Homo sapiens: one gene and its partner. The protein of the gene in region 1 purifies or fractionates together with the protein of each later gene. This does not show direct contact. Each region holds a gene or a part of one and is shown on either strand. Other genes may lie near its edges.

Region 1 (16,699 bases):
TTGTGTATTGCATATTGCTACCTCAAATCTGCGAGCTTCATGAAGGTAGAGGTGGGGCGTCTCTCCTAAATGTTCTATTTATAAGGCCTGACACAGTGTCTGGTCCTTAGCAGGTGCTTACTAAATATTTGTTAAACAAATGGACAGATGTATACTTTTTATTGTATCCATGAATGTGATAGGGTGCCTTTGTAATACTCTTGTGTTCTATCATTTGTCTGAGATCATAAGGACCTTCAAAGCAGGTATTGCCTTTTCAGATGTTTTTTGTTGTTATTTTTATTTCAACCTTGCCTACCTCTTCTTGGGAAACTAGTAATGTGATCTCCTCAACATACCCTGTGGATTTATAGAGTGACTTGGAGCCTGGGAAGAAACCAGCTCAATCATTCATTATTTTGTTCAGAGAGCTTTCTCTGGCCTTTCTGCTCACCCTTACTTTTTATAATTGTGTTTCGCTACCCTACGCTTTACTTCTTTTACCAAGATAGGAATTCTCCTCCTCTCTCCTCCCACAGCCAAGCAGTTTAACCCCACTTCTGTAGTTGTAAGCAATTTCTGCCTCTTTGTGGAGCCATCTTTCCATATAAATCACTCCTTTCATTTTCCTTCCCGGCATCAGATACTCTGTTCTGAGCTGCCGTCAGCACAGTTGCCTCACTTGCGTGGTGTGAGAAATTGCTTTCTGCATTCAGGTAGAGCCCTCACTGTGCTTGTGGGGACCAGAGATTCCCCTTGTTTGCGTCAGGACACAATGAGCAATTTCTGGTGGACTCATCTATCATCAGACATGGCTGAAAGTGCAGCACATTATCATCCAGTGGCTGATTTTCTGCCTCAGGTGATGCTGTTTTCAGGAAAGCCTGCAACCTCCCTTGGTTGTGTTTCCACTACTCTATGTCCTCATGTTGCAGGCCCTCACGTTGAAGGCATTAGTGTGTTTTCTCTGCATAACCTCCCCTCCCGCTCCACACACACATACACATGCACACACACGTGGGCATGCACCCTTCCTATGTATTAATGTGACATCTCCCCTCCAGCTGGTGTTAGTGTGGCACTGTCTTCCAATTTTCCAGCGAGTGGCAGATGTCATGTTATGTCAGATTTCAAAGTCAACCCGTTGCACTACTGAAATATTTTTGTGCTGTACTCTCCTTAAGTAGCTCTTATCCCTCACCATTTTTCTGCAGAGGCTTTCAGATACATTCTCAACCAATACCTTATCAGCAAATATTAGCTCTAGCAGAGTGATTACTCTCGTTGCATTTCCAACTATCTGAATCATAAAGTTTTCCCTTACATAATTTAGGGTCCCTGTTGATGCTCTGAAGTTGGCTCTATTTGTAACTCAGGAAATAAATGAGTAGTTAAAGCCTCCTGGGAGAACAGCTTTTGCAATTTAGAATACCTTGGGAGTTGATCTAAAAATATTTCATTTTGGCTTGCCTGTTCTTCTTTCCCTTAAAAAATTATTTATCACTGGTTTATGAGTTTATTAAAGCAAGGTCTTCCTCCCAGTTTTTGGACTGGCATTATTAATATATTTGGATACATAGTCAGGTTTTTCTTAGCAAAAATTCAATTAACTCTCAATTTATGAAAAAGGCAAATGATAAAAGGAAAACCAAAAAGTTACAAGATAATATGGGGGAATGTATTAAAAAAGTAAATTCAGAGAAATGCATTTCGGGCTTTAAAATTCCACCCAGCATTTCTTAAATTGAGTACTCTATAGAAGACCACTTTAAAAGCAGGGGTCAAGGATGGGAAGAGAGACAAGATTTTCATGGATTTCCAGTGGTAACTATTAAAAAAAAACTTTATATATGTGCAATCATAAAACTAGGTATAAATGCCTTAAGCTTACACTCTGATATGACTGTAACTTCTGAAATTATAAGTTATGCACATATATAGCCACTAAAATTTAAACTTGGAACATTAACTTAATGGAACAGATGATGTTTTATTAAAATTAAATCCACTTTGGGAGGCCGAGGCGGGCGGATCATGAGGTCAGGAGATCGAGACCATCCTGGCTAACGCAGTGAAACCCCCTCTCTACTAAAAATACAAAAAATTAGCCGGGCGTGGTGGCGGGCGCCTGTAATCCCAGCTACTCCAGAAGCTGAGGCGGGAGAATGGCGTGAACCCGGGAGGCGGAGCTTGCAGTGAGCCGAGATCGCGTCACTGCACTCAAGCCTGGGCGACAGAGTGAGACTCCGTCTCAAAACAAAAAACAAAAACAAAAACAAACAAAAAAAACAACATTAAATCCCAGGTTGCAATGTGGATGTGGCACTGACTGCTGTAAGGCCTGCCCTTCTGGGTTCCACGCTCATCCTGTGATAACGAAGTTCTCCTTCCACAGTGGCTCATTCTAGCGCTTGGGAACCTTCATTACTACAGTGGAGCCCATATCATTCAGCTTTTGCTGGTAGGAAGGCGTCACTGACAAAGCCAGTCACCTCTGTATTTTTGTCATCAGCCTGATATGATGCAAGGACTTCTCAATGTGCCAGTGTGGTGAACACAGGTGCAAATCTGAACATTTAAATTTAATTGTTGTCATACCACATCTAGCATAGGTTTATATTATACATCTCCCAATTACAATAGAAATGAAAACACTAAATTGAAAAATATACATAAAGAGCCCATGGACTCTATGTGTGTCTATGTAGATACAGATAAAGATATAGATTCAGTTATCCTGCAGAAAGACACATATATGTCCCCACATATAAGTCTCCTTATGTGGGTTCTTTTGATGCCCATTTGAAAAACATTGTCTTACACCTTTTATCACTATAAATATGTATTGATGACCTACTAGCTCCTGGGTAGAGGCTGGGAGGTGCTGGTGATACTGAATATGGTTACTATCCATGTGACATTCGTAGTTTAACACATGAGAGTATAAATAATTAAATTCAGTGATGTAAGCTCTATGAAGAGTCTAGGATCTTTGGTATTATCCGTATATTACAAAGAGAATGGAGTCTGAATTAGAGATTTAACTACATTTGCCATTGTCTACTAATTAAAACACAAAGGTATGCACCCTGTTTTAGGTATTATTACCGTAACAAAGGAGGAAACATAAAGGCATTTTCTAGTTAACTCTCAGTTTATCAAAATATCAATTATCAATTCTTTGAACACGTACAAAGTCCTCAATATATGAGGACACCATTTGTGAGGCTGGTTTAAAAGACTTGTTCTCCAACTACCCAGATCACTTAAATGTCCCTGCAGCTATCTGTGCCTGTATGTGAGATGAGAATTTCATTGTAAAGTTAGACACAATTTTCGGACATGCATCTTATTGCACCCAACTTTAGAGTTATAAACATTCAACCATTCAACGTCTGGCATGAGGCCATGGAAGGGCATTTCTTGGGAATTCTGTTCCAAATATATCCACAGTTCCCATGATACACTCTCCATTCCTTACCTTCTTTTATTTTATCCAGGTATCCTTCTGAAACAAATATATCTAGACATACATACTTTATTTGTCTCTCACTAGGTGTAGTTTCATAGGGCAGGAACTTTGTCGGCCTGTTCCTACTGTGTTCTCAGCTCCTAGGAAGTTATCTCATGCACCTTAGGCACTCACTCCATATCTGTTGAATGAATCTTGGCACTTTTTTTTTTTTTTTTTGCATTTTCAAAGACAAAATATAAAAACAAAAGTAAAGAACACAAAAAAGTTAAAGCCAATTGATTTTAATTTTCAGTGATTATTTTGATTAAAATTCCAACCTGTCACTTGCCTCATTTCTTTAAGGCAGTGAGTGGTTCTCCAGGAGGAGTCCCCAGAGCCGCAGTATCCGGGAACTTGTTGAAAATGCACATTCTTGGTCCCTCCAGACCCATGAACCAAAAGCTCTTTGGGGGCTGGCTTCAGCAATCTGTTTTTGATGCACAGAAAAGGTTGAAAACCACTGCTTTAAGGCATGGATTTCCCTAAGTTCACCTCTTCCTCTGAAAACAAAACAAAACGACCCTGAATCTTAACCCCACGGTACATATTCAGAAACATCTCTGCCTTCTGATGTCTGTCAGGCATTTCTTTGCTCTTCCAGACTCTCATTTATACCTTCTTTCCTCACACATGGCTAGAGGTTAAGAATGTGTACAAGTGTCTTCCAGATAGCTTTCCTTTTTTCTTATCTGTGCCTTGGGTTCCTCATCTGTAAAATGTGGATATAATATTAATAGAACACATCTCAAAGGGTAGTTATTAGGATAGAATGATTTGATATATTGAAAGTTCTTACAACTATGCCTGGTGCAGTACAAGCAATATATAATTTTAGAGGTTACTTGTGATGTAGTTGTAATGAGTTCTGTTTTATCAAGGATCAGTAGGTAGGGTTAGCTTGGAATGTAAGAATTTTAAATATCTGAAATAATTTCCAAGACATCAGAAAGTTGTCATTAGCCTTCCTCAACTTGCCTCTTGGCTCCCCCTTATTTAACTTCAAAAGTGTTCCCCTCTGTGCTTCTTGTTAATGAGAGTCCAGGACACGGCCACAGACAGCAGGGAAGGAGCCTGAGTTTAGAAGAGCACTCAAGCCAACTTTTTAAGTCCTTCCCTGAGTTCTCTTTCCTGCTGTTCAGGGGACTATGGAAGAGTCCTATGGTGATGGAAGAAAGCATGAAGCCATGAAACTACATTTTCTTTTGAAGCAGAGCAACATCATGAGGAAAATAACTTTCCTCAACTGATTTCATTGTTTCCCTCAGTTTCTCTGTTGTTAGGTTCTGAGAACCATACAAACTTGTGAACCATCTTTGCCCATTTAGAGAGATGGCTTTTACTCAGTTACTCTTTTCTGTTTCTACTCCAGGCCCATAAGGAGGCCCAGGTCCAAGAGCAAGTACACCGGATCATGGCTACTCACCAGGGAGAGGATTACCCAAGGGACACACAGGCTTTCCAAGGGCTGTGTGGCTAGGGCAATGACAGTGTGTTCTGGCCCACAGAGTAGTTTTGGATTGCCCTTTTTCAAAGTCCACCCTTACTCAAGCCTGTGGCCACTTGCACTGGTTCTATGCACCCTCAACCTGAAGTGGTTGGTCCTATACAAGGACAACGATAGGATTCAGGAAATGCACTTCAAAGATCTCAAATTCCCTAAAGTTGATCTGCTTGAGTAAGTGCCTGAGGTTGCAGTGTAATTCTGTGTCTCCCTTCTGACAGCTCCCACTTCACACTTCGTCCAGGAGATAAACTTCTTTGGCTTTCTTTGTCACCTCCATCAGCCGACTGTCATGGAGCAGGGTATCAGTCTTGAAGGAGACTCCCACAGAAGCAAAGCAGGGCACTAAAGGCAATGGCACCTGATTGCATCAGGAACAGATTCATGGCAAACTAGTGCATTCTCCATTTAGAATTAGAACTTGGAGATGAGACATGTCCTAACAGAGGGCTCGGTGATTTAGCATATTAAAATAAACAGTATTTGTATTTTCCCAACATTTCTGAGTGTATTGGGTTAAACAAGGCACTTCCAGTAAAAGAATAACATCTTTTTGCAGCCATCTGATAAGGCCTGGTAAAATGGTATCATATACTTTCCAGATACTGAGAAATTGAATGAATTTGATGCCATGTTATAAACCCCTTTGCGAGTCAGGTATTTTCCAATTCATTGCATTAAAATAAATTGAAAGAGGAATTAATTGATTTGTCAGCTGCGAGATCATTGAAATTATCTTTGAAGCTATATTACTATGTGATTTTTGGCATATATCTTGGAAAGCATTCAAATAATTGAGTTGGCATTGCTATGCACAATTTTCATTTCCATCTTCTTATGTGAACAAGGTTTCTCTAAAAGCAAAAGTAGGAATAGAATTGATCCTGAACTCCATCTCATTCTAGCAGTGAGTGATATTTATCTACGGCATTTAAAAAAAGGGGCCTATCCCTCTTATTAAAAGCTATATTTCTAGTAAGTTTGCTTTTTCATGTTTAATTATTGCTTAACGAAATGTGCTCTATATTTATGTTCTATCAATTTTATATTTGTAATGATCATTCATTTAAGAAATATATTATTGCTTAAAGTTTTATGGTCATAGGACATAAAAGAAATTTAAATTTCAATCTCTGTATATTTTTGGTTGCAAATAAATATGGTAGGTGATCAATAAAAGACCTTCAAGCATAAAGTACATTTTTCTGCAGAAGATATATAGTGGAAAAACAAGTTCCAGTTTAAAAAGGAACAATGCACGTGTTATGACTTTTAGAAAAAGAGTTAGTTCCTGAATTTTGAAAGCAGATAATCAGGAGTGTTAATCACTGTGATATTTAAATTCTACTGAACAAATACACACACACACACACACACACACACAGGAATTTTGTGACTTAAAAAAATTTTTAAATGTGAATATGTTCTAAAGGCCAAAAAAATCATCCTTTTCAATTGTAGCTTACAATTTTTTATGGCAACTTAAGAATGTGCAAGGGGTTACATAACTAAGCAAAATTAAAGCAATATTTGTTTGCACTTAGTCACTTGGGTTGTGTGGTGACTAGAAGACCACACAACTAGAAGCGACTGGAACATCACGCCCTTCACTCTGTCTCAATTTAGCATCTAATTCCAGGTGTGCTGATTTTTGGAATTCTACTATTTGAACTTTCTTTAGGAGGAGCTCTTCAAACAGGGATTTCTCCTTTATGAAAATTCACCTATCCTTAGGAAAGGTTGCATATTTCCCCTTATCAGTCATTTGCAACTGAGAATGAATAAATTTATCATATTTTTTCCCCAAGAAAAGCCTTTGAAAGTGGGGAGCAGGGAGGATCCATTAACGTTTAAGATCCATTAGGTCTTCATAAGGGAAATAGAAAAATGCTATGGAAGTAAGAAAGCAACAGGAAAAGAAGCAAGATGCCTCACGATGTGGAGGAGATAACATGACTTCATTTTTTCTTTATACCAATGACATTTCTATAATGATGTGAAAGAATCATTCGATGGTACCTAGATTATCAGGTCCTACTGGTGAATGCAGTTGGGCCCTGGAAACTCGCTTACCTAGAAAGTATGCAGATTGAGGTCTGTAACTGCTGGTGTGCAAGGGATGCCTGTGGTCAAATAAAAAAAAATAGTTTCATTGGAATGTTAGAGTATGATTCTATTTCAGGTGAAAGCAAATCAGCACAAGCTTCATACAAGTTCATGCATGTGTATAAGGAGTAAGATGTAGACTGAGATATAACAAGTTGCTAGCAAATCACCATGGGGTGCTGGGCATTGGTGAGGAGTGAATGGTTAGATGGGTCTGTATCATCTTAGTGTTATTTACATGCATTATTCACTTTGTATTGTTCACATGCTTATTTAGAAAAGAACAATGTCTTCCTGCAATATTGTGAGAGTGCCTAACACCCTCCCTACCCAACTTCTCAGCGGCTAAAGGGCAGATGGGCCAGCTCATAAAAAGGCCTGGGTGACCGGAAGCTGGTATTGCTTTTATTCTTCCTACCAACCAGGGAGAGGACCGCCCTAGATCAGGTGCTTTCCCCATTCTAGAGGGTCATGGTTCTGGTGCTTGGAGACCCTGAGCCATGCAGGCCAGGTGAGACTGGTCACTTGGCCAGGTCCTGACATCTCCACTGTGGCCAGTGTCTCTGGGGTCCTTCCATCTCCTGAGACCTGCCTGAAGGATCACTGCTGCCACCCAAGTGTTAGGTCAGATCCAGTGAGGGAAGGCCATGCCTATTCCCCGTGTTCTCCTCACCTGCAGGTGCTGGACTCAAGTCCCTCCTCTCTCTGCCAGGACATTGGCAAGAGTGGTTGTCCTTGTGCATTCCTATGTGCAGCATGGAGTGATGGGTGTGCCTCCACACTTAGAAAGCATTCTGTTTCCTCATGCTTCCATTCCCACGTCCTCAGTTCCTGGGCACATGCGCAGACGTCCAACACTTTCAGTCCTATATCAGACCTGACAGCCTGCAGGTCATCCACACTGACACACAGGCCTTGTTTGTGTTCATAGCTTTGAATTGTTAAGGAGAGTAGGTGAGAGGTGTTGCACAGTTCCCTGCTTTGATAATAGCCTTGTTCTGTCTCCCAATGGGACAGGGAGTGTATGAGGAACAGGGATTCTGCTGATAATTTTCTTTTTCCTCTCCTGAAGTCCTAAGATGCAGTTTTGACTTCCTCAAGAAGTGTTGGCTTTCTAAGGTGAATTTTACCAACCTATGTTATAAATTGTAGTTTGCAGGCTTTCGGCTGCTTAGGGGTATAAGGAGATTACCAACACCAGGGAGGTCTGGAGGTAAATATGTTCAATTTTTGATTAACTACAAGTTAAGTATTTGCTTTGTGGGTTATCTGTGACCTATTTGAAATGCTGATCCACTCTCTCTCCCATGTGCCCCTGGGCCACTTCTTCCCCAAGGTGGTAAATGTGCTCAAGAAACATAAACTGATTTTCATATAAGCCTATGGGGAAAAAAATAACAGGGAAAGCAAATGGATGGCAAAGATACATAATATGTCTCGAAGTCAAATAGAAATGATTTTGTATTGTCAGTTCTTCAAGATGATTCTGGTCACTCTTAGTTTATATTTAGGAAGTTTCATCAATAATTGTTTCCTTTTAGCACTGTGTTTTGTTGTTTCATTTACTCCTCAAAATGCAACGTCTTATTTACCATATTATATAATCTCTCCACTCTCTCTCTTTCCCTTCTTCCTCCCTCCACCACTCCCTGCCTCACTGCAGGTGTACCATAGATGACCGGGTAACCCGGGTGGCCTGGCTAAACCGCAGCACCATCCTCTACGCTGGGAATGACAAGTGGTCCATAGACCCTCGTGTGATCATCCTGGTCAATACACCAACCCAGTACAGCATCATGATCCAAAATGTGGATGTGTATGACGAAGGTCCGTACACCTGCTCTGTGCAGACAGACAATCATCCCAAAACGTCCCGGGTTCACCTAATAGTGCAAGGTAAGTCCCAGCTGGATCTGGGGTTGCCATTCCCGTCAGTGATGGAGGGGAAGAACAGTGTTGGTGTTTGTTCTACCTGTGTGCGAAGACACAAAAGTCATCTTCCTCTACTGAATTCAGAGTTTGACTATATGTCTTGGAATGTTTCCCATCGAATGGGTACTTAACTAAGTGCTGAATATCTTCTCAAAGTTTCTAAATGTTATCTCTAGTCCTTCTGTTCTCATCAATACGTTGTGTAACATGCACTCGTATTGAGCTCTCGTAAGTTACTTAGCACTCTGGAGCTGGAGTGAGATACATGCAAACATAGATAAATACAGTACTACTCTCAGTGCCTTTTAATTCTCTTATAGGCTTATTTCATGATAAAAGACGAATAATGCCAATGAGAAACTACGTGACATGACTGTTTTCGCACAGTTGCTGGTCATGCATGCTCTGGAGGGGTCTCTGAGTGCTGTTTAGGCAGGTCCTCCCTGGCATTGCTGCTGTCTTTAAACACTCTCTCATAGCCAGACAATGAAGTCCAGATCCAAGAGGGATATTAGTCAGAATGATATCTGCAGGTTAATGTTAGTAATAAATTCAGACAATTTTAAAAAGGGAGAAGGAGGAAGGAAGACTTAGCATCTTCTTCCATTCTCCTTTAAAAACTTGAATCGACATAGCCCAGGAATTGTGTCACGTGCATTTTAAAATAGTTTTTAATTTAAATTTCATATTACACCTCAAAAATGGGGCTGAAGAAATGTCAGATTCTCAGATATTAAATATTAAGAATTAAAAACACATGCAGATAGCAGTTCCAAGAATTTGAGAACCATTTTAAAGCAAGGCAGCAATCCAAATGAACTTATTTTGAACTTGACCCCAACTATCATCACCATGTAAAGCCATTTCTGTCAGGTGTTGGCTCACGGCAGGAATGAAGTTGTAAGCACATTAGTTCCGTCAGCCAGTGATGCATCCTTCCTCCACCAAATGAAAGGTTCGGGTGGACTTCTTTCAGAGCCTCGTTTGCAGATATCTTGAGGAAACACAGTGAGCTCTCAGAAAGGGTCCCTATGTGTGATTTAGTCTTTAGCATCTGCCTTTTATCAGATCCCATCTGTCATAGATCCAACAGAATTTTTTTTTTTTTTTTAGTTTGTGAAATGTGTATGGCATCCTTGCTTAGCTAAGATAGATTCCTCATCTCTGATTTAAAAAAAAAAAAAAAAAGGACCACGATGTTGCTCATTTCAATTGGTTTCCTAGAGAGAGGTTGCGTGGGGGCTGTCTATTCATGCTTCAGTCACTTGCATGATTCAGGTTGCCCATTCTTTCCTTTTGGCGCAAGCAGCCAGGCCTGCCTCTGTAGCCATTTGTAATGGCATGTGTGGGGCCAGAGAGCTGTCTGCTGTCACTGCTGTTCCCCAGCAGTCCTTGGCACTGCCATGCTGCCTGAAGCTTTGCTCCTGCCCAGCCTCCAAGCCCTGCTCCCCTCCTCGCGTGCTTTCAGGCGTTCACACACGCCATCCGACAGACATCTACAGATGCTGCGGGTTTCCACTCTCCATACACGTCCACCCACAGCTCTGGAGTGACAAGACTGCCTGCCATCTGGAGATCAAGACAACTGTCACATCTGATACTTCTCCTCAGAGGACGACAGAGGCACTTGGTGAGATCAGTCATCGGAGATGAGCTGGGCTATCTGTTGAACGTTTCTGAGGGTGTAGAAAACAAAAGACTGTGAGCTCTCACTACCCCACCTGCCTGCACCTGGGCTTGGTTCCAGAGGAGCTGACATTCTCGGCATCGGAAGTGCCACCTCAGTGGCACCTCTGTGGCCTTGACAGCAAAGTTATTTTCAAATTCAGGAAATGTGGCACCGAAATAAAAAAGAACTGTCAGGCACTGTAGAGAAACAGACTCAAACAGAGCAAGCCTATCCCTTTTCAAGAACGAAGATAGATGATATAAGCAAATCAAAGTCAATGCACAACATAATGGGCTGGGGGCTGAGCAACAGAGAAGGATGTTCTCCATAACACATGCTGAGCGATCCCTTGGGTGGGATGTGGCAGCCTGTGGGGTCTCCCTGTGGACCTCCAAGCTTCAGGTCAGAAAAAGTCTAAGGACAGCATGGCATCTATTTCAGAGGTCAGCTCCTCAGTCTCCGCATTCCAGGCCAAGCTACTCTCTGGCTCCAGCCCTCTGAGGTGGCCTGGGAAGTCCAGAGGCAGTCAGGATGGGTGGGGGTGGGAGGGGAGGATATTCTTTTGGGGAGGAGCTTCTCTTGGGGAAGAGCTTCTCTTGGGGATGATGTTCTCTTGGGGAGGAGCTTATCTTGGGGAGGAGCGTCTCTTGGGGAAGAGCTTCTCTTGGGGAAGATCTTCTTTTGGGGATGACATTCCTTTGGGGAGGACATTCTCTTGGGGAAGATCTTCTCTTGGAGATGATGTTCTCTTGGGGAGGAGCTTCTCTTGGGGAGGAGCTTCTCTTGAGGAGGAGCTTCTCTTGGGGATGATGTTCTTTTGGGGAGGACCTTCTCTTGGGGAGGAGCTTCTCTTGGGGAGGAGCTTCTCTTGGGGAAGAGCTTCTCTTGGGGAGGAGCTTCCCTTGGGGAAGTGCTTCTCTTGGGGAAGATCTTCTTTTGGGGATGACATTCCTTTGGGGAGGACATTCTCTTGGGGAGGATCTTCTCTTGGGGAGGAGTTTCTCTTGATGATGACGTTCTCTTGGGGAGAAGCTTCTCTTTGGGAAGATCTTCTCTTCGGGAGGACATTCTCTTGGGATCCTTGGCAGGCTGGTTTGTACCTTTACTGAGAGGCCACAGAGAAGGAGATCAGAAAGCTGAATTATTTCCTCTTGCTTAGTGATCCAGTGACTTGCTCTTTCTTTGGAAGACAGTTGAATTACCAGAGGGTGGATGTAGAGACCCCACTACTCAGTTAGAAAGAAGCCCCAGAGTTCTTCTCCCAGCAGCATCAGCTTTTGTCCAGTCTATAGATTAATTTTTCAGACATAGTGTTAGTTCAGGTTAGATAAAGATAATGAAAGTTTCCTAATCCTCTTAAAGAAAATTTATCTGACTGAGTAGAAAGCTTTTGGAAGACAATAAGGCATGTATAAAACTGAGGCCTAATCTTGCCTTTAATTTCAAACTGCTGATGGGTATTGATTTTGCAATGAGAGAAAACAGAAAAATTTCCGAGCTGCCACTTGTCTGTTTATAAAAACAAAAGGTGTTTATGTATCTTCTGTCCATTTGAGAAGGTGGGTATCTCATTTCTTCTGCCAACCAGATGCCATCAGCAGAAGGGAGTGCACGCCTAAGGGACTCAGCTTTATCCCTCCTGCCATGGGAGCGCCTGAGAGACACTCTGCCACCAACTTTCCTGCCTGCCCTTTCCTGTTGTAGAAGGCAGCCTTTGCCACATATCTGATGGAACTAATTTCCAAATCCTTCTCATTGAGAACAGAAGCTGCCTTCATTAAAATCGTGTCACTGATACCTGAGGTACATCTCAGCCACTGAGGGGATCAGCACAGGCACCGTGTGAGCATGTGATAATGTGATCTAGGCTGCACACCTCAGTGTGGAGGAAATCCGGAGCAAGGGGGATGCTCAGCTGTGGGGTCGGATTAGTTGGGGGGAAAATCAGCCTGGCAGCCCCGCAGAGCAGGAGCTAAAGCGGGAGAAGCTGGAGGCACAAGCGCAGGCAGGAGTGACTCCCATCCCCGCTAAGCAGTGCAGCCAGGGTGACCGTGGGCCTACCTGAAAAGATCCAGAGGTGCCTGAGAGGCACTGTCCACAGGAAACTGAGAGCATTCATCCTCATACCTGGAAAGAGGAAGAATTAAAATGATATCACCCAGATTTTTTAGTTTGGAGAAATGCTAGTGATTGGGGAGATACGATCCTATGCCACTCGGAAAGAACAGCTTTGGGCTTACGAGGTCTAGAGATAAACAACACACAAACATTACACAGATGTTGCAGAACTAGGGAACAGGTGTAACCTAACACCAGAAAGGGCATATTTGAGATTCAGCATGAATTTCCTGGCTGGAGAGTAGGTAAATGTTCTGAGGTTAACTATTCGTAGATAACAGTAAGAATCATAATTTATTTATATCCAACCTCAGCACTTAGCACACCGTCTGAGGCACAGTAGGCACTCAGCAAATGTTTGTACAATGAGCAGAAGCAGATTGATGTTGCTACTGGAGTGGCATAGGAACACAGCGATCATAAAGCATCTTCCTGCAGATACAGGTGGCAGGGAAGTCAGACTATGTCCAGATGACTCGGAGAGGACAGTCATGGAGGAAAGGTCCCTGAGGGGAGAGGGTCCTCGATGTGACAAGCTAAGAGATTGTTCTAAAAGGATAACACAAATTCCAGGCATTTATTTAGTACTTTACAGAGATGGCACAGTGTTTGTCACCTTTGACTCACACAACAAGCCCTGGGAGGCTGTAGTGCAGTGACCGTTATCTCCATTTACAAATTAGGTAACTGCAGCTCATGGAGGTTAAGAGCCTGGCTGAGTCCCCAGTGAGTAAGTAGCAGAGCTGGGTCTTGAACCATGGCCACAGGACTTTCAGAGTAGTGTCTTTTCAGCATTCTGCAGTCCCTCCAATGCCAACAACATCCAAAGTTAGTTCTCTGCTCTAGATCAATGGAACATTTTCAGGATTTCTCTCTCTGTGTGTGTGTGTGTGTGTGTGTGTGTGTGTGTGTGTTTGTCATTCTTCCTTCTATTGATATTGCATTGTAGCAACAGAAATTGAGGACAAAGCTCAAGAAAGAAAATTAGTGGTGGGAGTGGGACACCAAAGCTACAATAAATGATGTAGAGAGGCTGTGAGGGGGGCAAAGAGAGGATAATTAATTTTCTAGTAGCTCATCCCTTCAGGGATATGCATTTTAAATGTTACCACTTTATCCTATGTAAGTACTGAAAACCCTGGACCCTCTGTGGATCCAGAATCTCATTGTCATTCTAACTGTCATGAGCTCTTCAGCACTCTGAAAGAATGCAGAGATCTATGTGTGCCAGTGGTATGTCATTGTCGTTGTTTGTTGGAGATAGATGGAGTAAGAAGATCCGTCTATGGTTGCTTTTTGGATGTAGGTATTCTCTACCTGCTTTCCTGCCTTGTTCAGAAATCTCTTCACTACAGGTTACTTCCTTTTATGGAATGAACTCCTCTTGCTAAGCCCAATTTTATGCAAAGGGCTGGAAATGATGAATTTTATTAAATTCTTACATAGGAGGCTCCACAGCAAGCTTATGCAATTTCTATGTAAACAAAAGACTCTACATCTCTTAGCCTGGTGTCAGTTCAGGTGAAATTGGTTGGTATCTGAAGTTGAGTTTTGCTTGTAAAGAAAAATGTGTTCCCAGCCCTGCCAGTCCTAGATATTGCTGATCACCAACCAACCTCAGCATTGGGTGCACTAAGTATAAACGTTATCTCAGCCGTTCCTTACATCTATCCACTCTACAGAATATCCACCCTAGTCATGTTTACAAATAAGGAAATGGAGGCTTAGAAAGATTAACAACTTACCCAACGCTGATGCAGCTGCCGCGTGCTTTAAATCCCCTTCACTAGACTTACTCATCGAGGTTAAGCTTTTCTCACGAGAAAAAAAGTTATCAAAATACAAACAGTTAACAAGGTACTTTATATGCATTATCTCTTTTGATTATGCTTCCCAAAAGCCCCACATGACAGAATAGAAAGGCACACCTTTCCAAGACCAGAAAGTGAGATTCAGAGACTTGGAAGTGATTTGTCCGAGTTACACTAGCGAGGAAGTGGCAAAGCAACACCCAAGACCGGGTATATTTACTCTGTAGCCACCAGAGTGTTCAACACACCACTGACTCAGAGTTAAATACGTAGACAGGTACTTGTTCTTATGTGAGAAAAATGTCAACCTTCAGAGGTGCTCCAGAAAAGGGTGGGCCCTGAGGTGACAATTCTGGGGTTGGGGCAGCAGGTGGATGCTGGGATTGCACCAAGGAGCGGTTGCAGCAGGCCCAGGGAGGCAGAGCCATAGGTCACAATTTTGCCAGGGATTTCCCTATTTTCAACTCTTTGTAAGCAATCTCTTTTTTTAGGCTATTTTCTCCTCTTTTCCTAAATATTACCCAAACATTTAAATGAACATGTGTGCTTATAGACTTAAAGAAAAGCAGGCAGTTAACCTGAAATAAATTTAATGTATTCAACCGCTACTTAAAATTGTAATCACATTTACTCTTCACAAAGACAGGATAGAAGAGTGGAAAACAACAGGACAGGCCAGCAGAATGCTCACTCCTCAGCCCTGCGCTCGGCTCCTAAAAGTGCAGGCCTGCATCTCCAAGACGTTCCTCTCCTGGCTTATTAACATGGGGTGAAGAGTAGAATTCAGAGTAATTTATTTATGTGCACATATGCATACTTTAATCCCATGTGTGGCTGTGTGTGTTTTTTTTGTGTGTGTATGTGTGTGTGTGTGTGTATGTCAATTGGAAATAAGATTCTGAGAAGGGGTCTCTAAGCTGCAAATTCTGTATATTAGTGCAGATAAAGCACACAGCCAAAATTAGGTTAAGGACTTTTCTGGGCGTCATGTCCTTGACTTTGCAATGGAAAGGTTGAACTGATGATATGAAAGTCCTTTCTAGTTATTCTGTGTGACAACTTGTCAGTGTAATTCATCTGGGAATTTGTGTGTGACCAGGAGTCTCTGCACTCTGTGTCTCTCCTACTTTCACCCGCCGATGGCACAATTACTAGGTTGGTGTGAAAGTAATCGCAGTCTTTTGCCATTGTTCCTACTATTTCTTATTTGTATTTTTCTCCAGAGGCTTTAGGATTTAGTGTCCCTTACTAACACTGCTAGTTAGGGGTGACTGTAAACCTTGTTGTTCACTTTTTGGTTAGAGAAGGTGGAAGAGAAAGATACCATTTGCTTCCAAGTTCTTCTCTAACATTTGTAACCTCCACAACCCACGTCAAGCGGACACATATTTAATGGACAGTGGGGTGGAATTCCAGAGGCCACAGAGGAAAGAGCCATACAACCTATAAAAACTGTGTGAGTGTGTGCATGTGACTGCAGAAGAAACAGACATGAAAACTGTGTGTGTGTGTGTGTGTGTGTGTAACAGTGCGTGTATGTGTGAGGGCATTCGTGAGTGTGAGTGTGTACGTGGTACCTCTGTATGTCTTAGTTCCTAAGCAGAGCAGAACAACCAACATATTTCTCCTCACAACAATGGGAGAAGAGACCTGATCAATGGAGAAATCATCAAACATCAAGCATATATATGTATACGAGTATATAAAGATACACATATATATGCTTGGATATACACATATACATGTTCAATGTTTGAGGTGTATATATGTATATGTGTATACATACACATGCTTTATGGAAGAGTTAGGCTAACTAAGAAGGCAACTACAACACAGAAGGAATCAAGAATGAAGTTACTGTCCAGAATACCCTCTATAACACATAAAGGAAGGGATCTCAAGTCTCCCTTCACTGGGAGGGTGTCCCCACACCACCTTCTGCACCTGCCCCGCCCCCTGCGCTCAGGGTTAGAGCAAGGCCACACTCACCCCACCATGCCGTGGTCCTATCCCGGCTCTCAGACTACTGTGTTTCTCAGATATTAACGAATATGACACCTTGCGTAGCC
Region 2 (16,699 bases), on another chromosome or scaffold:
TTTTTGCAAGATTTTTATAAATCTGAGACTATATCAAAATAAAGACATCAAAAAATGTATGCCATATCACACTGCTAACACTGACCTTATTTATTTGAAACTGTAAGTAGTCAAAGAGACTATAATTAGCAGTGATAAAACACCTGAACCTAAATCAAATTTAGAAACAGCCCCCCACAAAACTTTTCTAAGTGTGTAATCTGGGTCAGGGTTATTTTTCCTTTCAATTTTTAGATTCCATTTTAATTGTCCATTAAATTTACTCAAAACCTAAATTATAACATCTTAAAAATAAATACACACTGTTGACTGTAACTTTATACATTGCCACCAACTGTGAAAATAAGGCACCATTTAGGAGAACTATTAACATTTACAATAAAACAAATACTATTTGATCACTCAACTGGGAACCAGGCACTGTGCTAGGTAAGAACTTCATTTACTCATTAAAAACTGAAAAGAATCCTGAAAAGTATGTATTTTCTATATTTTACACAGTAACATGCTCAAGGTCAAACAAGGAAAAACTAGAACCCAAGTTCATCTTGCTGCAGAGTCCATAACACTCGCAATGATCTCATTTCAACTCTAAAATTCTACCACTCAAATAATTCCAAGATAGTATCAGAAAAATCCATCTTCTCAAAACTGTCTTTTCAGATGCAAAGGAAAGGAAAATAAAAACACTGTCTCTCAAAAGGCATGGTTACTAAAAATAGTATTCTTACAATGCTGAGGAAGCTGAGGCAAGAAGATTGCTTGAGGCCAAGAGTTCAAGACCAGCCTGGGCAACGTGGCAAGATTTCATCTCTACAATAAATAAAAAATTAACCAGGCATGGTGGCACATGTCTGCAGTCTTAGCTACTCCACAGCTAAGGCGAGAGGACCACTTGAGCCCACAAGTTCGAAGCTGCAGTGAGATATGATCACACAATTGCACTCCAGTCTAAACAACAGAGAGACCTTATCTCTAGAAAAAAATAACAAATTAATAATAATAATAGTTTACAAATGCAAGCACTTATCCTATACCAGGCATTGTTTTAAATGTTTTACATATATTAACTAATTTAATCCTCATAACAATCAGGATATATATACTATTTTTACTTCCATTTTACAGATGGGAGAACTAGTGTCAAAAAAAAAAAAAGGTTATTCAACTAGTAATGTTGGAGCCTAGATTTAAACTGAATCTCAGTGTTCGCTCTTACCCACTTCACTAAACTTATCATTATTCATACATTATCACATTATCCTCCACCAGCAGACTGTGCTAAGCTATATAAAGTACCACAGGCCCAGCCCTGAGCCAAGGGAAGGATTCAACACAGGTTAGTTGCTAATATTATTCAAGATGCCTTTTCTTAATATTCTTATCCCATTCATTTTCCACACCAGTGGACTGACCTAGATCATTAGACTATATTATATACCTTTTAAAGTGATACATCAAAAAGGGAACCAGGAATTTAAATCTGAATTCAAGGTGGGCAAATATATACAGATGCAAATAATGCAACTATTCTGAGAAATATCTTGGTAGTATTTTTACCATATTCTTTATTCCAAACAGTTGGTCATCTTATGAAGCATCCGCGTAACGTCTCACAATTCAGTTTAAGAGATTTTAGGCCGGGCGCGGTGGCTCACACTTGTAATCCCAGCACTTTGGGAGGCCGAGGCAGGCGGATCACAAGATCAGGAGATCAAGACCATGGTGAAACCCCGTCTCTATTAAAAATACAAAAAATTAGCCGGGCGTGGTGGCGGGCGCCTGTAGTCCCAGCTACTCGGAGAGGCTGAGGCAGGAGAATGGCATGAACCCGGGAGGCAGAGCTTCCAGTGAGCCGAGATTGCGCCACTACACTCCAGCCTGGGTGACAGAGGGAGACTCCGTCTCAAAAAAAAAAAAAGATTTTATGCTGCTGGACATGGTGGCTTACGCGCCTATAATCCCAGCACTTTGGGAGGCTATGCGGCCAGACATGATGGCTCATGCCTGTAATCCCAGCATTCTGGGAGGCCGAGGCGGGCAGATCACTTGAGGCCAGGAGTTCAAGACCAACCTGGGCAATATAGCGAGACCCCTCTACAAAAAATAAAAAAAATTAGCCAGTCACAGTGGCACATACCTGTGGTCCCAGCTACTGAGGAGGCTGAGGCAGGAGAATCACCTGAACCTGGGAGGCAGAGGTTGCACTGAGCTGAGATCACGCCACTGCACTCCAGCCTGGGTGACAGAGTGAGACTCTGTCTCAAAAAAAAAAAAAAAAAAGAGATTTTATGTTAGTTTTGTCCAAGTTTACCACTCTCCCTTTAAGACTGTAAACTCCAGGCCAAGGACTACATTTTATATATCTTTATAATCCTAAATCTTGGCCTAGGGCCTGAAATAAGAAGTGTTCAAAAATACTTATTATACCCTGATAAGGGCCAGGAGTGGTGACTCATGCCTGTAATCTCAGCATTTTGGGAGGCCACAGTGGAAGGATCACTTGAGCCTACGAGTTTGAGACCAGCCTGGGCAACATAGGGACACCCTGGCTCCACACACACAAAAAAAAAAAATTAAAATATTAGCTGGATGTGGTTGTGAACACCTGTAGTCCCAGCTAGTCAAGAGGTTAGGGTGAGAAGATCGCTTGAGCCCAGGAGGTTAAGGCTGCAGTGAGCAGTGACTGTGCCACTGGACTCCAGCCTAGGTGACAGCGTTGAGACCTTGTCTAAAAAAAAAAAAAAAGCCTGGTACAGTGGCTCATGCCTATAATTCCAGCATTTTAGAAGGCTGAGGCAGGAGGACTGCATGAGGCCAGGAGTTCAGGACCAGCCTGGGCAACCAAGATTCTGTCTTTACCAAAAAAAAAAAACAAAGTAGCCAGGTATGGTGGTGTGAGCCTGTAGTCTCAGCTACTCAGGAGGTGAAGGCAGGAGGATCACAAGATCCAAGGGCTTTCAAGGCTATGGTGAGACATGATTGTACCACTATGCTCCAGCCTGGGAGACAGAGTGAGACACCCAACTCTAAAAACAAAAAATATATATATACCATTTGCTTATAATTCACATGTATTAATTCCATATCCACTGCTAGAGTAACTGCACTGACATGCCTTAAATGATTGCTTTTCTAGGTTTGAGAGTATTGCTACATGCAATTCAAGCAACACCTTTAAGAGCTAAATGCAGCAGTTGCTGAAACCAAGATAACTCCTTTCCTTGAGCCATGATTCTAATACTAGCCCTTAAAATAGAAACAATTCCAGAATTTTTTTAGAACTGTTGTTTTACTAAGTCCTTGATTTTACACTCCTTAAAATAACTATAGATAGATTAAGCCATTCCTAACTTTACAACTGTCTGAAGAAATATGGAAAACTTCCCAAATCCTTTACTATTGCATTAAAAATTTAAATAAACTCAGCAGGAATCATGAAAAAGTTCTAAGTTTCTTGAGATACAGTAAACTCTCAGAAGTTAACTCTGTAATTATGAATCACCTTCATTTTCTTTTTTAGTAATAAGAAACAAAACCGTAACACTATGGCTGAATATCAGTAAACACATGAGTTAGGTAGTAGACCCATTTTATAGAAGAGAAAGAAACTCTGGTATTCCAGCAAACATAAGTTTACCAATTCCTTAAATGATTCAAGAAATAAACTGAGTATCAATTAAAACATGTACCACAATGAAGATATAAAATGATGGTGTATTAGCTCTTCAGTAATTCCTTTCAGTAGTCCTTACTTTCTGTAATGACAAGATACCTGGAAAAAATGTCATGGCCTAATATACAGGCAGCTGAAAAGTAATACTAGATGGTTAGAAGAGGCAGAAGGAGATTATCTTACAGCACCACACCAAAGGCTGAAATACCCCAAGTCTTAGTTCATAGCAGCAACTGGAAAGGCAACACTTTTCAAAAGGCAGGATGAAGAGTAGAGTAAAAAAGATGAACTCTGCAATTAACAGTCTAGTTTTCTGAAAGGATTTTGAGGCCAGAATGTGAAAATCAACACTAACATTACTAATGACAGTTGAGAAATAATTAGTAAATAGGTCTGATCACAAAGTTAAGACTACTGAATCTTCTTAAACATCAGCCTACTTGTTGCCATCTACTGGGGGAAGGGCACAAATGCATTTGGACCTGGGGTGGAAGGGTAGAGAGCAGGGTCAAATTCCCTTGAGACTAAGCTGCTTTCCCTAGGTGGGAAGAAATGAAAATACATGCTTCATATAAAGGAAAAAATATATGAAGCTGGGTGGCTGTTTTACAGAAAAACAGGCACTCTTGTGCTACAGCAGTAAAACAGATAGACTTCACGAATATTTTTATTCTAAAGTCCACAAAATGTTGGACAATACAGCCTTCCTTACTCTACAAACAGGTACAATTCTGAGTCATAAATCTGCATAGCTAGCATCTCTGCTTTCTACATAAGAATCAAATTAATCCAAACTGCAATTAGGAAAGTCTGTAAGAACACACCAGAAATAAAAGCTGCTAAAGAAAGCTAAATATCATAGCTATCAGAACACTGAAAAAAATTGTTTTTAGTTTCTCTTCAGCCACCATACAACCTAACTTCTCATTTTTAAAATCCTGTATACATACTTGTATAAAAGTAATGGTATCTGTTAAAGGATATAAAACTGTGCTAGATAGGAAGAGTATGTTCTCCTGTTCTATTCCACTGCAGGGTGACTATAGTTTAATATACAGTTTCAAATAGCTAGAGGGAAGATATTGAATGTCCCAACACAAAGAAATAATAAGTGTCTGTGATGATGGTATGCTAATTACCCTGGTCTGACTACTATACATTGTATGTATTGACACATTACTAAGTGCCCCATAAATACATACATATTATGTGTCAAAATAAAATTTTAAAAACAATTAAAGGGGTAACAACTCTACTATGCAGAGTGCAAAGCGAATATTTTATTAGAATATTTAATTTGATTAAACTATGTAATATTAATTTGTACTTTTTAAAAGTATTTACATATTTATCCCAGAGTCAGTAATGGCTAGAAAAAAAAAACCAGAAGTATTTAAATATTTAAGCCACAATTCACTTTTGTTTTAAACATAATTTCACTGTATTGAACGCTAAGCAAAAGTTTCCCTATATAAGACTTACAAATTACTGAGGACAACTCACAAAAAATCATGCATTAGGTATCAAAAAGTATTTTGAATTACAAAAAATCTGAACAAACAACAGTTGAATGTGCTGAGACAAAATGACTGATAGCTTCCACTAAAGGAAGACTTCTGTGTCCAACAGAGGACTGGTGTGGGTCATTTAGACAATAAACCAGCTTCTGCTTATTTAACATTTTAAACAACAGGAAAAAACAAGAAGTTTTACCTTCACTACTTCTATCTCCTCCAAAACTTAATACAAAAACTTTTATATGTAGTATCAGAAAGGGAAGCACTGTCATAAAAAATGACATCTAAAAGCACTTTTATTTTTGTTTTCAGTTCATTCATAAATATTTTTGTACACCTTTTTCACATCACCTATTCAGGGATCAACAATCATTCAACATAATCTGTTAAATCTAATTCCGTGATCTCCCATTTAAGAACTTCAATAATCTCAGCCCAATTTCCTGTTATTTCATATATATGGACCCTCTACTCCAGAGAGCCCATTTACCTTAATATTAGATCCTCACCACAATTACACCTTTAAGCTCCCCATTCTTCTATATCTTCCTCCAAACAATCAGGGCCAGTTTAAGCCCCTCTCTCTTCATAGTCTTCCTAAGTAACTTCAACCCAGAACTGAACCTCTCTAAACTTCCAAGTACCCACTGTATAAAACTCGATCTTGTACTTAATAACAAATATGCACAATGTTAGATGTTGTGTGCTGTAGTCGTAAGTTTCAACTCATCTACAACAAAGTACATTTCAAGATAAGGAATCTCCTTTTATAAATCTCTTCTTTTTCAGCACCCTCTAAGAGGGCAGATCTTGTATGGAACCAGATATGCACTCACATTAGCTGCTGATGAGTATTTGTTTTTGTTTTTTGAGACAGAGTCTCACTCTGTGGCCTAGACTGGAGTGCAGTGGCATGACGCACTGCAGCCTCAACTTCCTGGGTTCAAGCAATCCTCCCAAGTAGCTGGGGCTACAGGCATGCACCACCACATCAGGCTAATTTTTTATTTTTAGTAGAGATGATGTCTTGCTGTGTTGCCTAGGTTGGTCCTGAACTCCTGGGCTCAAATCATCCTCCTGCCTCAGCCTCCCTAGGGGTTGGAATTACAGGCATGAGCCACAGCACCTGGCTGAATATTTGTAAATGAAGATGCTTCAACAATTTATTTAGTATAGCCACAAATCATGCCCTAATTCATGTTTCTTAATTTACATTCTAATATCAGATTTTCTAAATGCAGAAAATCTACATTTAGAATTTTACAGAATATTTCTCTATGCTAAATACTATACTCCTATATACAGTTTTAGACAAATAAGCTGTGATGGAATAAGATAAATATCAACTATATGAAACATAACAGAACTTGGAAGACAAGGAATAAGTTTCAGGTCCCTTTTATATTCTGTCAAGCACAATTGTGGCACACAGTAAGCACTTGATAAATATGTATTGATAAATAAATCATCATCTACTAATAAACATCATCTCCAAATGCTAAATTTGGGGTAACCAACTAACTAAAATATTCTAGGGTCTTAACAATTCCTTAAGTAGCTGATTTTAATGAGCCTAATTTTGAAAAATTTATATTCTACACTCAGCTGCCAACCCCTGAAAAATGAAAACAAGCAAGTAAATTATGGCAAACGATGCTAATATTATTTCACAACATCGTTTCTCAATGTGTCACACCAGAACACACTACCACGTACACCTACCATGTACAATGCATTATGTTGGAAGCCTTGTGCTAGACACTGTGAAGATAAAAGAATGAGATCTCTACCTTGAAGAGGCCAAAAACCCAGTTAAGTTAAAATGTAAACAACTAATTATGTAAGACAGAACGTGAAAGTCATCCTGAAATATGTTACAGAAGGAGAATAGGAGAGTAAGGAGTAAAAATTTTAAAGGAGTCACTGGAAGAAAGTTAAGTGTAAGTATATATATTTCTAAGAGATACAGGCCAGGCGCGGTGGCTCACACTTGTAATCCCAGCACTTTGGGAAGCCGAGGTGGGTGGATTGCCTGAGGTCAGGAGTTGGAGACCAGTCTACAATCCCAGCTACTCAGGAGGCTGAGGCAGGGAATCGCTTGAACCAAGGAGGTGGAGGTGGAGGCTGCAGTGAGTCGGGATCGCACCACTGCACTCCAGCCTGGGCGGCAAAGCAAAACTCTGCCTCAAAAAATAAAAATAATAATAAAAATAATAGATACAAGATGTGAGAGGGGGTGTCAATTCAAGTAGACAAAAAACCAAAGCAAAAATGCTAAAAAGTTGCTGGGTGTGTTCAGAGAGGAAGAAACAGTTCAATCTGATTGCAGCCAAGGATGTAAAACAGAATTACGAAACACTGGGGTCTGAGAAGTTGACAGCATTTGCATATATTTCCTATTTACAAGGCTACTAGAAGCACTTGGTTTTTGAGAATCAAAAAAAGTAGGGGACATTCATATGATCTCTATGAACCTGCTCTCTAAGGACACAAAGTAGCTTAAATTACAACTGAAGAGAGAATTTCAAGAGATGGGCTACTGTGAAAACTCACTTTAGGTTTCCAGGGCATCGCACATGTTTACCAGTATAAAATCTTTAAATTAAGTTCATCTGACCTTAAGAACACAGCACAAGGTACATCTATTTATTCAGAGCACTGCCCACGGCTAGAGTGAGTAGGAGTTTTGAAGTCAGGGTAGAACTCATTGGTTATGACAGCCAACAAGTTGATTAAAATACACACTGAAATGCTGTAACTTCAAGTCTTGAAGGCTTGTTGATGGACACTTAGGCTTATAAATAGCCTTCAAAAATCCATGTATGGGTAATAACACCATATTTATAGAAATATGTACATGCTCTCTAAAAAGAAACAAACAGAATAAACTACAATGATGTATACTATTATAAATTGGAAACACTAATCATTTAGCACTGCATTAAAACATATTGGCCAGGCACAGTGGTTCATTCTTGTAATACCAGCACTTTGGGAGACCAAGGCGGGTGTATCACGTGAGGTCAGGAGTTCAAGACCAGCCTGGCCAACAGAGTGAAACCTGTCTCTACTAAAAATACAAAAAATTAGCTGGGTGTGGTGGCAGGCACCTGTATCCCGGCTACTCGGGAGGCTGAGGCAGGAGGATTGCTTGAACCCGGGAGGCAGAGGTTACAAGTGAGCCAAGATTGCGCCACTGCACTCCAATCTGGACAACACAGCGAAACTCAATCTCAAAAAAAAAACTTATTTAGGTCCTCAATGTACTTTATCAACTATTACATGCACATAATGGTCAATTAAAGAGTAACAAAATGGCTTGCCCTAATTCTTTTTAAAATGTATGATTTAAAGTAACTTGCAGTCTCCAAAATATATACTGACTAAAAGTCTCAAAGTCATTTTAGCATTAACGATGCAAAATAAGAATCAAAATTTTAAAAATAGGACATTAAGCCATTACAAAATATTTCCACTTACAGTATCTTATTTTATTTTCACAAGACTTATTCTGTCAACAAACGCTTAATCCCTATCATGGGCCAGCTACTGTGCTAGATGCAGAGATAAAAAGGGACACTACTTGGGATTAGTGTCCTTATAAAAGTTAAAAAAAGGGTGAGGGCTAAAGACTTTAAAGAATTCATAATCAACTAAGGAATACTATTGTATACTAAAAAAAAAAAAAAATTTTTTGAGACAGGGTCTCACGGTCACCCAGGCTGGAGTGCAGTGGCACAATTACAGCTCAGCACAGCTTCCATCTCCCAGGCTCAAGCAATCCTCTCACCTCAGCCTCCCAGGTAGCTGAAGACTACAGGCATGTGCCACCATGCCCAGCTAATTTTTTACTTTTAGTAGCAACAAGGTCTCTACTAAGTTGCTCAGGCTAGTCTCAAACTCCTGGGCTCAAGTGATCCTCCTGCCTCAGCCTCCCAAAGTTCTGGAATTACAGGCATGAGCCACTGGGTCAAATGTTTCAAGTAGGATACCTATGCATATAACAGAGGTATGTTCGAGTTAAAAGAGTTTTAACAAATGAGGCAATGGTCCACAGTACTGTAAACAAGTGGAGAAAGGGCCTTGTGTTCCAATTCATCTGTGGAGCCTAATCTAAATACAGAATGTCTAGCATATAAATGACAACTGACTCTACATTAGGTGGTAATAATCAAATTTTTCAGATTAGGCACTTGAAGCTCACAAAGTACTAAGTTAAATTATTTGCCCAAGGTTACAAAGATGGGAAATGCATAGCCAGGATTGGAACCTAAGTCTTGCCTTCAAATCAGATAATCACTTGAACAGTGCTATTAAGGAAAACACACAGTAGCAGGTATTTTTCACTCTAGACCATTTGAATGACTTTTTAAATCAAGCATAACCATGATAGCCAAGTGTGGAGGTGCCCGTCTGTGATCCCAGTATTTGGGAGGCTGAGGCAGGAGAATCACTTGAACCTGGAAGGTGGAGGTTGCAGTGAGCCGAGATCGCGCCACTGCACTCCAGCCTGGGTGACAAAAGTGAGACTCTGTCTCAACAAACGAACAAGCATAACCATGAAACTGACTACTGCCAATAGCTTCTGCACTCTCAAGACAAAGCAGGTAAGCCTGAATAATGGGTAAGTTCCTTTTTCTTCTATCCAATTCAGTTTAATGAAATCACTGAAATCACAATAAACAACCAAAATCTAAAAGGCCTCAGAGAAAAATGACTGAACAGACTTATTTCAGTCTAGGAAACCTCTTTTTGCCAATAACCTAAAACTATCAGTAAGTTAGGATATTAAAGAACTACATTTTTAAAAAACCCAAGACATTAGCAGAGTTAAATTTTACTTAAAAAAAAAAAAAGAAAAATCAAGGGACAGGTCTAGCATCGGTATACTTATCTATTTATTACAAATAACAGCAAGCATCCATTATGCACAGAGAAACCCAGCAGAGAGGTAGAGAACAACTGCTTTGAGGTTATGTCTTCAAGTCTGTAACACAGCTGCTGAAATGATACACAAGTACCAAAAGAAAATACACAAGTAAAGCTTACATTACACTACACGTTAAGAATTACCAAGCACTGGCCGGGCGCGGTGGCTCACGCCTGTAATCCCAGCACTTTGGGAGTCCAAGGCGGGTGGATCACGAGGTCAGGAAATCAAGACCATCCTGGCTAACAAGGTGAAACCCCATCTCTACTAAAAATACAAAAAAATTAGCTGGGCGTGGTGGCTGGCACCTGTAGTCCCAGCTACTCGGGAGGCTGAGGCAAGAGAATGGCATGAACCCTGGAGGCGGAGCCTGCAGTGAGCCAAGATCGCGCCATTGCACTCCACCCTGGGCAACAGAGCGAGACTCTGTCTCAAAAAAAAAAAAAAAAAAAAAAAAAAAAAAAAAAAAAAATTACCAAGCACTAAGATTATATACAACAATCTAAAAATTATATTTATTCTGTAACATCCACCAGATTTTTACTCTTCCACCCTATCTGGCCTGGACTCTCCTCAGGCTTGGCCTTATTAACTAAAGCTTGGCCTATGAAAAAAGTGGCACAGAATAATCCACTGGCTTAACACTAAAACATGGCAGTGACAGTTGATATCCATCCAGGCACTCTAATGGCACGTTAGTCAGGGGAGATGTGAAGAGGCCCTGATCACTGAACCAACCAAGAGAAAGCATTCTGAAGAATCTGCTGGGGTCAAAGAACCCTTCCAAGCAGGTTGGAGTCCAGTGGCATGATCATAACTATTAACTTCAAATCTCTGGGTTCAAGCAATACTTCCGCTTCAGCCTCCAAAGTTGCCTAGAACTACTGATGCATGCCACCATGCCCAGCTAACTTTTTTTTTCTTTTTTGTGGAGACAGTCTCACTATGTTGCCTGGGCTACAACTCCTAGCCTCAAGCGATCCTCCCACGTCCTCACCTCCAGTGCCACCTCACCCAGACCAATCAGGTTTATTAGTATACCTTCACACATACCACATTGACATGAAATCATCCTTGCCCTCAGGAAGCCTACAGTCCAATCAGGGAAACAAAAGCAACACATGTCAACAAATGCAATACTGTAATGCAGAAACGAAGCAAGTACAGTTAATCAGAAATACAAAGATCACAGGTAGAAACTTGTTCGAGGAAGTGATCTGAAGACATGAGTTGTAAGTTGTTCTTCACATCCTTTATCTTCTATGTTTTTCTGTACATAGTGGGTGCTTGCTTGATTTAAATGAGGGAAAAGTCCATGTCAAACAGGCAATTGCAAGGAATGATTTCAGTGAAGATTAAAAAACCAAGTAGGTTGCTGTTTTGACTTGAGTCCATCAAATAGCAAACAAAAAAATAAAGGAGCAACTGGTATCACATTTGCTCAAAAAGATCCCTACCCATCCACTTAAAAGGGGGGAAAGTTCCCTAGGTTCTGTAAAGAAAACAGTGACCAAGATTCAGAAGCATTATTCCCTAATTGTAATCTCTTACATTAAGTCAATTTCATTAGAGTCACAAACCAGAACAGGTACTTTGTCAATAAAAAACGTAAATGAATTTGAAGTTTCTTTAAACATATTAACAAGTTTTTTCAGTAGAATGTATGGCAAACAAGTATCTGGCATGCTGATACCAAAAAAAGAAGGTAACTTTAAAAAGACAAAAATGAGACCCAAATTCTACTACCAATTAAGCAGCAATTTCAAATTATGAAGTTCTATAACTCTGTACCTTCAACCTAGTTTACATTAATTCTCCCCTGCCCCATGGACCACCACGACTAATGAGAAGCTGTATCTTTTAAAAATGACCTCAAAACAGCTCATGTAATTTTCTAAAATTAATTTATTTAGCATGTTGTTTTTTTTCAGTCATTACATCTGTTGGGTCTCACAACCACCCAGTGAGGTAAAATAGAGATTACCCACTCCCATTTTACAGATAAAATAAATGAAGACCAGATAGGTTAAGTGACTAGCTCAAGGTCACAAAGCTACTAACTGGTAGTGTGTGAATTTCCAAGCCAGTGATGTTTTCCTTGCTAAGATGAAAACCTTAAAATAAAGCAGGATATTAAAACCTTGTCTAGATAACATAAATACAATAATCTTACAAGTTACACTGGGGCCGGCGTGGTGGCTCTCCCCTGCAATCCCAGCACTTTGGGTGACCAAGGCAGGCGGATCACCTGAGAGGTCGGGAGTTCGAGACCAGCCTGGCCAACATGGTGAAACTCTGTCTCTACTAAAAATGCAAAAATTAGCCGGGCGTGGTGGCGCGTGCCTGTAATCTCAGCTACTCAGGAGGCTGAGGCAGGAGAATCGCTTGAACCAGGAGGCAGAGGTTGCATTAAGCCTACACTGCACCACTGCACTCCAGCCTAGGCGACAGAGCAAGATTCTGCTTTAAAAAAAAAAAAAGTTACAATGGGAAAGGAATCATACATGGAATCATACATTACTACAAATTTACTTTGCCAGGTGAAAGTACTGATTTTACCGTGATCTACCTAGCATCCCATTCGTTTTTTAAATGTAACTACTTTAGTTTAGCACCTTCTGGAACCTAACTGCCAAAATTGTTCTCAAACTTTTTGAAAGTAAATGAAAAAAAAAAAGAAAAATAAAGCCTGTTCATAGACTCAAACTAAGTAGTATAAATGTCAGCTGAACAGACTTAAAAACTGCTCACACTCCAGAAAAACTGGGGATTGAATGGAAACAATGATAATCTTAATTACAGTTTTCCAATTCTTATGGATATTGGCACATTCATAGAAAGGCAGACATGTACAAAGCCCACAAACCCCAATCATATTATGTACTCTTAAGCTTAAAATAAAACTCCCTCAATCTCACAAAGATAGTCACAGCAGTTCAACATTTCTGGGGCTGAACACACAGCAGGAAGTGTCAAAAGAAAGAATTAGAAATTCTGTATACTTTAAAACTTACACTTAATATTGATCACTTTGCATGTGGTAAATATGAAAATCAGCCTCAATAAAATCCTCTACAATTTATTGTCTCTAAACCTCTGCTAATTCCATTCCTCAACCCCCCCGGGGTGTAAATGCGACACACACAGGCCTCATATACAGGCCTCTTGCCTTTTTTTCTAACACAACTAGGACCTTTGTTCTGAGCGTCGTTTTACCCCACTCAATAGCTCTTTCAACTTTCTACCCCGTATTTTTTGTTTTGTTTTTAAAGAGGAGACTCTGAGACTCAACTTGCTAGGTCTTTAAAAAATGAAATGCCAAAAATACCTAATGAGACTCTCGAGAGGAACATAAAGTTAAACACATCACTAAAGGGCCTACAAAACGGAGTAAAGCCCGGAGATCGGGTGATCTGGCAGCCCAGGCAAGATCGAGGACCGCGACTAGGAAAGGAGACAGCAGGAGAGCAGTTAGACGTCCACTTAGAACGGATTCACTGCGCTATTAACCGTACCCGCCTCCCCCCGCACCGGCCCAACCTTTACACACAAACACATTCCCTCCCCCAATTAACTAAAGAAGCAATTAAACTATGCCCACCACCAGACTCGATGCTTAGGCTAAACCTCCCCCAAAGTAAAACAGCATTATCAAAAAAACACAACATTTGTCTTAAGGGTTTGGAAGCTGCCCCTTCCGTTATCTCCTCACCACGTAAGGTAACCAATTCCCTCCTGTCCCCCACCAGGAGTTCAAAGTGTGATTTCCCCCCGATTTACATGTGTTTTTATGTTTTTCCGCATTTTTCCGTCTAGGAAATGAAGGATTTCTTATTCTGAGGAAGGGAGAGACGCCGAGGAAGACAGGATTTGAGGTTTTACTACCTTCGTTATTCGAACTCCCCTCTAACTTGTTCCTGTACTAGAAACCCACTCACTATGGAGAAGGAAGGAGAGGGGCTGAACTGATGGACAAACGTTGTAAATAATAGGTTTTATGTAATCCACATATAAATAAATTAATCGCCTGACTCGCTCTGAATGCTAATACGATTGGGGTGACAATTGGCCCACCTCCCTCCCCCAAGTCCTAGTTAAACCCACCTACCACCAATTTCCATTCTGATCTATTTAAAAGGATACTCTATTCCTCTCAGTCAAGTTTCTCGGCTTCTTTAGGCCTCCCTGCATGCCCCCCTCGTCATCATCCTCCCTCAGCCTCAACTTCCCACGGCTTAAAAAACTGCCCCGCGCAGACCCCGTCTCCGGGCTCGCCCTCCCTCAACCGTCCCTCGCCGTCCCCCTGGGCAGGAAACCCCTTACTGCGGTCTAAAGTCTCTCTGGCCTCTCCCTTCTCTGACCCTCGCTTCCCACAACTGTTGTCACTGGAGCTGCTTCCTAGTTTCCATTTCCGGGCCGTCCACGGCCCCGGAGCCTCCCCTTTCCCGATTTCCGGGCCCCTCGTCCCATTTCCGGGGAACCCTTGCCGTCTTCACACCCCCCACCTGCACTTCCGGCCCCCCACTTTCTCTCTTCCCAGACACCCTCCAAGCTCCAAAGCCCACTTCCGGCCCCCCTTGGTCCCCGCCGAGCTCCCCAACACCCGCAAGCCTTACCCCGGTTCTGTGAAGGGCCCTCCTCATTGCGGGAAGCCGGAGGAGGGACCCAGCGACCCCTACCTCCCGCCAGGCCCCGGTCCCTCCGGCCGCGGCCGCCCTCGAGCGTCTCTCCCGTCCACCCCCGGCCCGGTCCTTCCGCGGCCCCGCCGCCGCCGGCGCCGGGAGCAGGCCAAGCGGGGGCCGAATCGCGGCGATGACACAACCGGGCTTCCTGGGACTTTCTGTTCCAGCTCCTCCCCCCGCCCCCCCAACCCCTCAGCTGGCCCCCTCCCCCAAGGCTTGCCCCCGCCGCCCAGAGCTGCGCCCCAATTACCTAGTTAGGCCCCAAAGTCTCCGGTCCGGACTCGGTGGCGCGGCAGTAACTTCCACTAGCTCCCCCCACCCCCCCCAGCGGCGCGGCGGCGGCGGCTCCGGGTTCCTTCAATTATCAGCTGAGCCGCAGCACCGCGCCCGGCGTGCGCCTCCGCCCGTGCCGCCTCCCTCCCCGCCTGCTCTGACACCCTCGGGGAACTACTTTGTCCTCGGGCTCCGGTTACGGGCTCGTCCGCGGGACCGGCACCGCTGCCTACTGGCGGCCCATCACATCGCCCCTCCCTCCCACGCCTCCCGGCTCGACTCTCTCAGCAGCCTCCGATCTCCGCCCGATCCCTTCGAGGGACCAGGAAGGGGACTGTGGAGATCTACTTGGTATCCCTCCGCCGGGGTCACCCCCTCCCCTCCGTGGTAGCAGGAACTAATTCCCCCTCGGGTCACCCGGGACCTGGAGCTGGAAATTTCACGGATCAGGGTTCCCTAAGACCCTTGGAAGAGGGGACGATCGCCCCAAGTTAGAAATCCTTCTGCCAGCTCATAAGCGTGGTTCAATTTAAACTAGGGTTTTGGCCCCTTGACCCCAACCAAGCCCCGCCCCTTCCTGGTTGTCTTAGCGACGGCGGTGGCGTCCCAAGATGGCGTCGTGGCTGCCGGAGACTCTCTTTGAAACTGTAGGACAAGGCCCGCCGCCTAGCAAAGACTATTACCAGTTACTGGTCACCCGGTCTCAGGCAAGTGCGAGCCGCGGTTTACCCTCTCTCCTAACTCCCTACCTGGCCCGGTTGGGGCCCGGGACGCAGGCTGTGCTAGGCCAAGAGCAACCGTAGCCCGCCGGAAGCGCCCAGTCCCGGCTCCGCGCCGGGAGATTTTCCTCGTCACCTCGGCCTCCTCGGTCCGACGGCCCGCGTGTCCCTGCTCTCCCCGAGCCCGGCTAGTCCCTGGCAAGCCTTCTCTGCCTCCCCGCGGTGCCGCGTGCTCCTTTCCCGCCACCCCGGCTTCTTACCCGTAGAGTTTCCTCCGCGCGAAGAGGAAAACGGGCGTCTCCGGCTTGCGTGCGGCCTCACCTCAGCGTGAGAAGGAGGGAAAGAACGACTCAGCCAAGTGTCCCAAGGAGGAGCCGGCTAGGGAGGGGAAAAGGAGATTGCCTCTTTTCCAGGATAGGAATTAATCATGGAGAATTTTATAAATCTCTTTGTGGCCTTTACGCGTGCCACGGCCACATCAAAACTTAGTTATTTCTAGTAGCAACTGACGATTGGGAGCTCTTACCTTTTGGAGTCCCTTCTATCCCATTGAAAGTGTGCGGGTGGTGGTATAAAAATGTTTCAGCTGCTCTGCGCTTCAGCCCCACCCATAATGACATCTGCTCCACAACAATAAGACCGAGGATTATATTATCTCCAAAGTAACCATCGGCCTATTTTTATGCCTACTTTGGTTATTGAAGGTGGGCTTTTGGATGATTTACTGTGTCCATGAAATTCTCAACTTGAGCGGGGCCTCCATTGGGAAGACGTTTCTAATCCTGGCTGAGTTTACGCCTGTCACTGAGTTATTCATGCACCCTGCCCTTTCAATAGATACTATTCCTATAAAATGAAATTTAGAAGTTTGTATATATTTGTTTTGGTGTGCATATTGATCA

The links.
Region 2: the proteins of OPCML (region 1) and TRIP12 purify together in Homo sapiens (affinity purification with mass spectrometry; 2 studies listed by BioGRID and IntAct, with this or other methods). This does not show direct contact.

The regions. Positions count from the first base shown.
Region 1 is NC_000011.10:132,649,384-132,666,082, reverse strand, and holds part of OPCML (opioid-binding protein/cell adhesion molecule isoform b precursor), read left to right. Parts: intron 1-8,763; coding exon 8,764-8,996; intron 8,997-16,699. UniProt on the Homo sapiens protein: Binds opioids in the presence of acidic lipids; probably involved in cell contact.
Region 2 is NC_000002.12:229,906,825-229,923,523, forward strand, and holds the start of TRIP12 (E3 ubiquitin-protein ligase TRIP12), read right to left. Parts: upstream 15,186-16,699; 5' UTR 15,056-15,185; intron 14,966-15,055; exon of another isoform or gene 14,447-14,965; intron 2,263-14,446; exon of another isoform or gene 2,141-2,262; intron 1-2,140. Other genes in the region: FBXO36 (F-box only protein 36), read left to right, coding at 15,690-15,785. UniProt on the Homo sapiens protein: E3 ubiquitin-protein ligase involved in ubiquitin fusion degradation (UFD) pathway and regulation of DNA repair.